2 linked regions of the Homo sapiens genome follow. The protein of the gene in region 2 purifies or fractionates together with the protein of the main gene of each other region. This does not show direct contact. Each region holds a gene or a part of one and is shown on either strand. Other genes may lie near its edges.

What was found. Proteins that work in one complex are often made in the same cells at the same time.
Region 1: the proteins of ARL6IP6 (region 2) and GSTM1 purify together in Homo sapiens (affinity purification with mass spectrometry; 2 studies listed by BioGRID and IntAct, with this or other methods). This does not show direct contact.

What each region holds. Positions count from the first base shown.
Region 1 is NC_000001.11:109,685,976-109,691,097, reverse strand, and holds the start of GSTM1 (glutathione S-transferase Mu 1), read right to left. Parts: upstream 3,282-5,122; 5' UTR 3,225-3,281; coding exon 3,189-3,224; intron 2,982-3,188; exon of another isoform or gene 2,929-2,981; coding exon 2,853-2,928; intron 2,426-2,852; coding exon 2,361-2,425; intron 2,051-2,360; coding exon 1,969-2,050; intron 1,874-1,968; coding exon 1,773-1,873; intron 828-1,772; coding exon 732-827; intron 645-731; coding exon 534-644; intron 1-533. UniProt on the Homo sapiens protein: Conjugation of reduced glutathione to a wide number of exogenous and endogenous hydrophobic electrophiles. Involved in the formation of glutathione conjugates of both prostaglandin A2 (PGA2) and prostaglandin J2 (PGJ2).
Region 2 is NC_000002.12:152,724,388-152,729,049, reverse strand, and holds part of ARL6IP6 (ADP-ribosylation factor-like protein 6-interacting protein 6), read right to left. Parts: intron 1-4,662.

The DNA.
Region 1 (5,122 bases), on a different chromosome or scaffold from region 2:
TGGGGTCCAATCATGCAAAGCTTCTGGAGGTAGCTATGAATATTGCCTGTGGGTTCAGTACTAGACATCAATGTCACCGTTGTGTCAGTCCTACTATTGCCAGCTCCATCTATGGTCATGAAGTTCTCTGCCTCTTCCAAAGTGTCCTGGGCTGTGAAACCCAGGCTAGGTGAAGCCTAAGGCTTTTTCTTCTGTCACAAATGGGAGAGCCCTGACTGCCACCCATAGATCCAGAGGCTCACAGGGAGCCCAGCACAGCCTCCACTAGCTCTGGGACCCTGAGCAAAGGACTGACCCTCTCATTCTTAGTTTCCTTATCTCTAAAATGGGCGAGATAATTCTGTTACCTTACTGGAATGTTATAAAATTCAAATTTCACACAATAGGTATAATGTGCTGGGCACGGTTCGTGGCATGAAACCAGTACTCAATACATGCGAGTTATTCTGTGTGTAGCTCCAGGACTGGGAAAACATCTGAAAGGAGGTAACGGAACAAGGGGCATCAAAGAGAAAGGAGGATGGGGGCATCACCTCAAAGCGGGAGATGAAGTCCTTCAGATTTGGGAAGGCGTCCAAGCACTTGGGCTCAAATATACGGTGGAGGTCAAGGACATCATAGACGAGAAAATCTACAAAAGTGATCTGCAGAAGGCCAAGAATATGTGGGCTGGAACCTCCATAACACGTGAAGCAAAACAGATCTCATTCCCCATATCACTCCTCCTTTACCTTGTTTCCTGCAAACCATGGCCGCTTCCCCAGAAACTCTGAGTAGAGCTTTAGCTTTTCAGGGAGTTCCTCCAAGTACTTTGGCTTCAGTTTCTCCTGAGGCAGAAAACAGCTGTCACCACCCTCGGACAAAAGCTCCCTGCACAGACGTGGCCTCCCCGGGGCTGTGGACGGCCCAGGCTGGCCATGGGCAAGCAGCCATCTTCCCCAAGCTGGAACTGGGGCAGTGCCCAGGCTTCAATTGGATACATCAGCATTTATTAGACTCTGACTGAGTGCCAGACCCTATCTAAACTGATCAGAAGGCAGAGAGGAATGAGATGCTGTCCCTGAATCTGTCCTCACTGACCTCCCAATAGCCTCTGGGTCAGCCCCAGGAGCGCCCAAGCACCTGGCAGCCTCTGGATCCAGACCAGCAGAATCAAGGATGCAAAGAACTAAGGGAGCTCAGGGAAAGTAGAAAGTTCCTTCTAATGGGGTGGCAGAAGAAAACAATGAACATTGACTAGTTTCCAGGGAGATGAGAAGTTCAAGTTGAAAGGAAGGAGGGAGAGGAATAAAGGCCCTCTGACTGCCTCTGAGCTGTCTGTTATGAAAATGCGCAGATCCCTGTGCATGTCAATGACAGCACTCAGAAAACTGTTGAGGAGAAGATGCAATTCGAGGGTGCCATTACATTCCTGAGTCTTCTACTTGAGTCTGCATATTCTAGGAGCAGGCAGGTGATGTGAACTGGCTGACAGAAATGACCCAGGACAGAAGTCAGAGGCCAGAGCTGATGAAGGAGATTCTGAACACAAACTTTACCATACAGGAACTGAATTTCTACCCTGGGATGCCTGGATCGTGTCCTAAGGTTGGTGGGAATTGCCTCTGCTTTTGTTGACATGACATTGGAGTCGTGAGAATAACTGCTGATAGTATGGGAAAGCACTTGGAGGATGAATGGTACCAGGGACTTAAGACCAGTGTGTGCAGGAATGCAAGAGTCCTGGCCCCAAATCCAAACTCTGTCAGATGCAGCTCACTGGGGACACTCACAAATTCTGGATTGTAGCAGATCATGCCCAGCTGCATATGGTTGTCCATGGTCTGGTTCTCCAAAATGTCCACACGAATCTTCTCCTCTTCTGTCTCCCCACCTGCCACCCACAAAACACAGACTCAATCTCAGCATCACAGCCCAGCCAAGGAGGAGGCCACCTTCCCCCCACACATTGCAGCCACCCACACTCACACAGGTTGTGCTTGCGGGCAATGTAGCACAAGATGGCGTTGCTCTGGGTGATCTTGTGAGCCCCATCAATCAAGTAGGGCAGCTGGATGGATGGGAAACCGGCGAAGCTCAGTTGGGCCACCAGGCTCCCCAGCATCCCCTTCCCATAAGCAAGAGCAGAGAGGAGACCGGGCACTCACTGTGCCTGCTCATGGCAGGACTGAAATAAGAATACTGTCACATGAACGAATGCAGGTGGACACAGAACATCATGGAAGGACTGTTTAGACAGCCAGGAGTGAGAGGAATTGGGCAGAAGACTCCTGATCTTAACACCTCTAAGCTGGGGAGAGGAGATGCAGTCAGAGACACGTTGCACTTTCCCCCAAAACCGCCCCTTCCCCTGCACCTACATTGGGAAAGTCCAGGCCCAGCTTGAATTTTTCATTCAGCCACTGGCTTCTGTCATAATCAGGAGCTGTGGTGGGGAAGAAGAAGTGAAAACAAACCTCCCCAGAGCCCAGCCCTCCTTCCCGGGGACCCTCCCACGGAGCCAGTGGCAAGATCCCTGAGACAGGTGGATCTAGAATCTGACCACTCAGTCCCACATCCCAGGGTTCAGGGACAAAGAATCCCGCTGAGGGCTCTGGACCCCACACAGCTAAGGCTTCCAGGGTTTAGGCAAGCCCTGAGGGACACCCGTCCCAATTAGACAGGGGGCCCAGCATCCCACCCCAGCATTCTGCCTTGCAAGGCCAGAGGGCTCCCTCACCGGGGCTCAGGGAAGAGACAGCCTGCAGCTCCAGCAGGGGAGGCCTGCAGAGGCAGCCACAGGTGGCCACCATGGGTTGCTTGGTGCCAACTTAGCGTGAGTGGGCAGAGCCCGAACACGAGGGTGCCATTACCGTCCCCCATCGTGTACTTCTTTTCCTCATAGCTTGAGTCTGTGTATTCCAGGAGCAGGCGGATGGCGTGGGCCAGCTGGGAGAGATGGCCCGCAGGTCGCGTCAGAGATGGAGGGTCCCTGACTTTGTCTGCACCAGGGAAGCCCCCAGTTTACACTGCACGTACCCGTTGCCTCCTCTACCCGCCCACACCCCCAACACACACACAGCGGCATGCACAGGCCCTTCTGAGGCGGGCAGCCCTGAAGAGGAACGGTCCCTAGAGTCCGTCCCGCAGCTGCTTCGCACTTCCCTCCCCTGCGCCCTCGTCCCACCGTCCAGCGGACCCTCGCTCACCCCGCGGATGTCCCAGTACCCCAGTATCATGGGCATGGTGCTGGTTGGTGCGGATTCCGCAGACAGGCCTAAACCGAGCAGGGCTCAGAGTATAAGAGCTCCGGAGAGGGGACAGGCGGGGCCTTGCTGCGACCCCGCCCCTCGGCCCGCCACAACCCGAAAGGCGCCATTCTGGAGGCCCGGGAGAGGGCGCCTGGGGCTGCACTCAGTAAGACTTCCTCCCGCCTCCCAGGCCCGAGGGTTCCGGGAGCGAAGTCAGGGCGCCCAGAAGCCCAAGGCGGGGCTCGGCCTCGCCAGCTTCCCTACCCAGCCCTGAGGCTCCACGAGTCCATCCAGCCCTTGCTAGGTCCACAGCGACTTGGCTGTGCGCTTGAGACACCAGCCAGATCCTAACGGAGCAAAGCTCTTCTCCCTTCTCCTCCCTGCCCGCGGTGTCCCTCAGCCTTCTCTCCGCTGCCGAGTTCCCAAGGGCTCTGGGAGACTCCGGCTGCAGGGGTCAGACTAAAAAGTGGTGGCCCCAACCTGGGAATTTAATTCAGCCCCTGTCACTGTAAGAGCAGGACTTCCTCTGATCCGAAAGCTACTCCCAGGGCTTAGTCTCCCCTCTAGCCCCGCCTACACAGGAACAGTGTCAGTGGTATAGGAAGGACCCCCAGGAAAAGGGCCAGAGTAAAGGAAATGTGGTCTGTGTTTTCTGTTAGGGGCCCTCGGGTACTGAGTCCTTCGGTCATCTGGCTAAGTACTGTGTAAATTAGCCACTTCGTATTTTGGCACAATTTATGAATCGAAATCCAAGGATCAGATCCAGCAAGTTGGTGAGGTATCTGAGGTGCCCCCTAGAAATGTCCAGCCAGTCCACTAGGTGAACCTCACAGAGACCGGAACAGCAACAGCAACAGTGAGTGCAGTGGCCACAGAGAGCAGGCGAGGGAGGATGGAAGAACTTCCCGGACCAAACTGAGGGTCCGGCTGCTATTTCTCTAGGCCCAATAACGAGATGCAGATCAAATGGGGAGGAAGAGAGGTTTTATTTCTGCAACCGGTAACAGGGAGAAGGCCTAGAAATTACCACCAGACCAACTCAATATTACAAAGTTTTCCAGAGCATATATACCTTCTAAGGTATATGTCTACAAGTAAGTGTGCATTCATCTAAAGACATAAGTGATTAACTTCTTTAATCTGTAACTGAGGTCTGGGTCCTGAGGACCTTATTCTGGAGCCTCAGTCTATTTATTTAATCTAAATGGGTCCAGGTGCGGGGGATGATTACCCTTATCTTGTCTCCTGCTAAATCACGGAGGTTTGGGGAGTTCCTTCAGACGCCCAATAAACTTGTTTGTGGAGGCCTGGGGAGTTTCTTCAGACTCACAATAAAACTTGTTTAATTCTAAATAGGTCCTGTTAAGAATTCCTTCATTGTTTTGTCATGCTTTAAGGCCCAGGAAAGGCCTAAGCAAAACTCTTGGTGGGCTTTTGTTACATCCAGCCTCTGTATAAAGGTACTGGCTTTTTTCAGCTTTTAATATTTAACTTCACCACTCAGTCAGTACTGAAACAGTTGTTATGGAGGCCTGTGTTAGTGACGCCTGGCCTGCCACAGAACCTGTCCCTCAGAGAAGCCAGAACCCTGTCCTGCTGAGGAGGGAGGTCAGAGGATGGTGGCCAGAGAGGAGCCTGAGGGCTCCCCACAGGACCACAGGCAGGGACCCTCCCCTCTCCAGATCCACCATTCCGGACCTGGACCTGGCTCCTGACCCATGTGTGTTCTTCAGTATGAGACGGTGGCTCCAGTGGCCTTTGAAGTCACACCGTGATATGTGACCCATGGTACAACCTCCACGAGAACAATGTCCAACCTGCCAACTTTCTTCTTTCAAGGTAGAAGGAAGACTTTCAAAAGAGTTGTGCAATGGATTAGCCTGGGGTTGACT
Region 2 (4,662 bases):
GAATCTTGCTGTGTTGCCAGGCTGAGTGCAGTGGCGCAATCTCGGCTCACTGCAACCTCCGCCTCCCAGGTTCAAGCAGTTCTCCTGCCTCAGCCTCCAGAGTAGCTGGACTACAGGTGTGCACCACCACATTCAGCTAATTTCTGTACTTTTAGTAGAGACGAGGTTTCACCATGTTGGCCAGGCTGGTCTTGATCTCTTGACCTCATGATCCGCCTGCCTGGGGCTCTCAAAGTTCTGGGATTTCAGTCAGACGCCACCACGTCTGGCCAATGAAATGATGTATACTAATCTTTTCCATCAATTGAAACCTCTTAAGACTGTTTTCATCCAAAGCAAAAACAGGGATGGGTAGGAATTTCCTATCCCAATCCCTTTGCTGGAATATTATAGACACCTATCTAAGGGTATATTTGTTTTGGCTTATTTTTCAAAATAAGCCATTCTGGTGTCAGGGAGCAGTTACTCTTCTAAAAATATGCTGGCAACTTTATTTCTATAAAACCTTCCAGCAAAAGAGGCTGTTATATGCTCTAAATATTTTCATTTTGTTTAACAGTTTTAGCTTACGGGGATGAGGCAACTTTCAAGAAGTTTTATGAAGTCAGACACAGAGGCACCAATTTACACATATTATATATAATCAGAATACACCAGAAAAAAACAAAACTCTCATGGTTCCTATACTAGGGAAAGGTTTCCTATTAAATAAGTGTTAGGCAATCAATTGCACACACTTCATAAAACTTCATAAGTAAACAATGGGATTAAACGTGACTGTATACTAGTAATTTCCAAGTCCTGGGTAAGAGATTCTGACATTTGAAATGTTTAAATAAACTGGTATACTTATATTATGAAATACAATGCAGTCATGAAAAAATGAGGTAGACCTATGTATACTAATACAGAATATACTCCAAAAGGCACTTTAACAAGGCTGCAAAATATACATGATTCCAATTATATTTTTCCTATAACAGTGAAAAAAACATGTATTTTAAATGACTATACATATGTAAACAAAGAGAAAAAGATGTAAAAAGACACACAGGTAGATCGGTGAAAGCCTTTGCTTTAATTGTTGGAATCTTTCCTGGTGAGATTAAATTACTTACGTAACTAATGCATTTTATGATACTAACAATGAAAATACAATACAATCATACACTGATGACAGGGATATGTTCTGAGAAATGCATCATTAGGTGATTTCGTTGTTGTTTGTACATCACAAGAGCGTACTTACAAAAACCTAGGTATATAGCCTACTACACACCTATGAGCTATACAGTTATATCCTATTATTCCAATGCTACAGACCTGTGCGGCATGTTACTATACCAAATACTGCACGCGACTGTAATACAACAATAAGTACTTGTGTATCTGAACATACTTAAATATAGAAAAGGTACAGTAAAAATACAGTGTAAAAGATAAAATATGGTACACCTGTATAGGGTACTTACAATGAATGGAGCTTACAGGACAAAGAGTTGCTCTGGGTCAATCAGTGAGCGAGTGACTGATGAGTGAAGGTGAAGGCCAAGGACACTACTGTCCACTACAATAGACTATTATAAACACTGTACACTTAGGTTACGCTAAATTAAAAAATTTTTCTCTTCATTAATAAATTAACCTTAGCTTACTGTAACTTTCTTACTTTATAAATTTTAAAATTTAACTTTACCCTTTTCTACTAACAGTTTAAAACAAAAGGACACTGTACAGCTGTGCAAAAATGTTTTTTCTTTATACCATTACTCTATAAGCTTCTATTTCTAATTTTTTAGTTTTTAAACTTCTTTGTTGAAATCTAAGACACACACACATTAGCCTAGGCCTACATAGGGTCAAGGTAATATCACTGTTTTTCACTGTCACATCTTTTTCCACTGAAAGGTCTTCAAGGGCAACAACATGCATGAAACTGTCATCTCCTATGACAACAATGCCTTCTTCTGGGATACCTCCTGAAGGACCTGCCTGAGGCTGTTTTACAGTCAACTTTTTTTAAGCAGAAGTAATATAATCTAAAACAATAAGAAGCATAGTAAATACATAAACCAGTAACATAATTGTTTATCAAGAATTATGTTATGTACTGCACGTAATTGTGCTGTATTTTTTTTTATGACTGGAAGGTTATATAAAACTAGATTGGTAATAGGTTGGTTTATACCAGCATCAACACCAACATGTGAGCAATATATTGTACTACCAAGTTAGGACAGTTGCAATGCCACTAAATAGGAATTTTTCAGCTCCACTGTAATCTTATGGGACCACCATCATACAGGCATATATGCAGACCACTGTTGACCAAAATGGTATGTGGTGTATGGCTGTACTTAGCTAACTTTAAAAGTTGTAAAAACTATTACCAGCTGGCTACTAATAAAACTTAGATGTATCATATGCATGAAACTAACCATCAATTTTTAAATGTTTATGTAAGCAAATGTTCTCAACTTTATTAGATTCTATAGTTTTCTAACTTGAGAGGATGACCATTATTTTAAATAATTTGGTATCCTCTCTAAATCACATTCTATAGATAGCTCAAGTCTTTAAATCCCTAGAGCAAAGTGTCTCTTTACACGTCAAAGCCAAGTGCAGGAGCAGAGGAAAGTGCTCTCTCCTCTCCTGCCAATGCAACATGAGCATAGTGGGTGCAGAGTGCATGGTAGCTATAGCAGTTACACTGGTTAAGGCCTTCACCCAATCGCCCGACCACCTGCAACCCAGACTGTAGCATTTCTACATCTTTCTGTTGAAACAGATGAGGAAGGTGATCCTCTGACAGATTAAGTGACTGAAATTTCAAAAATAAATAACACCTGTAGTTCCCAACATTGGTAAATCATTAGATTCACATGGGAAAATTAAAAAAAAAACCCAACACTTTTATTACAGATCATTTCAAACACAGGAAAAAGTTGAGAGAAGTATATAAAACTCATATACCCATCATCCAGCTTTAAACAATTAATTCATGGGCAATCCTGTTAAATTTATATTCTCCTCTGAAGCTTGTAATCTTCAGTATAACAGGGAAAACAGTCATCAATATTTTTATCATATAAGTCCAAAGAGGCTTTTTTATTTCCTTTATTTTCATGACACTTGAAGAATAATTTAGAGAGCAAAAAGACAGCAGGAAAAAAACTTTGTTAAAAATTTTCATAAGAAATAAATACAGCAAATCCGAATTTCAATTCCCAGTTTCCCTAAAGTCATGTACACCAAAAATGGGCACGACCTGAGTGCAAATAATTGCTTACTAACTTCATGTATGAATCTACAACATATCCATCTTGTAAATACCACTTCCAGATTTCAGATACATCTCAAATTGGTTACAGCTTGTCATTATTCCTGCTTTTTTTTTTTGCACTTGCGTCATTAAAACACAATGTTTGAAGGAATTTTTAAGCCTTTCATGGCTTATTTTGACGAAAAGAGGACAACAATCTTCTTTGCTCCATAATTTGTAACATATTTTCATTTTTAGATTACAAACAATTCAAATGGTCAACCCAATAATTCTTTTTTGCATTTTTTTTTCCAAATCACCTTTGTATACACATCTGCCCTTAGCATCTGTCCACTTACAAACAGTATCAAATAAATTAGGATGCAGACCTCATAAAAGATGAAAAAAATACTTAAAGTCTTAGGAAAGTCTTACTGGAATCCTAATTCCATCATAATTATTTTATTCTTTCGACCATAGTTGAGAATTGATGAGTAATACTAAAATAATGAAATAGGAGAATGTTTTGAGAAAGAACAATATGTGACCACTAAAATCCCAAAACGTATTTCAAAATTAAAAAATGTCCAATAGACCAATGTGGTAATTTCAAGATCAAATAAACTTTATGAGAAATATAGCTCAGTTTTCTTTATTCTTTTGAAGATCCCTAAGAAAGAATAAGTCATGAAATTTCAATCCTTACAAACAGAACTGCTCGAAATAATTCAGAAATGAAAAATGGTCCAATGAGCCCTGATTGTACAGTGTACACTGACACATACAGCCAATTAAGTTACTTCGATTCAGTAGATAATTATAGGGTCTAAGATTCCGTAAAAGCAAAAAAAGAAAATCTCCAGGGTCTTCGTTTTTTTGCTTTTTTTTTTATGTCAGGTTTGGGAACTACTAGGCCAGTGGTGTTCAAAGTATATATAGCCCCCTAACTAGCAGCATGCAGAGCATCAACTCAAAACTTGTCAAAAATGAAAATTCTTGGGCTCCATCTCACACTACTGAGTCAGATATTCTGCACCATGTGAAGAGCAGCAAAATTTATCTTTCAGGTGATTCTGATGCCAGCTAACTTTTGACTTCATTAGCCTAAGAAACGTCCCTCCCAACCACCAAAGTTGGACTACAGAGTACCACACAATGTCAACTCAATTTATTGAGATTTAGGGGTCCTAATGTCTGGTTCTTATTACTGCTTTTATGTGTTAAGAAGAGTCCTGTAATAATTTCATGACTAATAATTTAGCTGCACATGGCTAATTCTTGCTGATAACCCATTCTTTTTCTGCCTTGCTATACTACCTAGACTATCTATGGTATAAAAATTATAATACATACTTTCTTGAGTTTTGGTTTAGAAGAAAATAACATTGATGGATACAGTG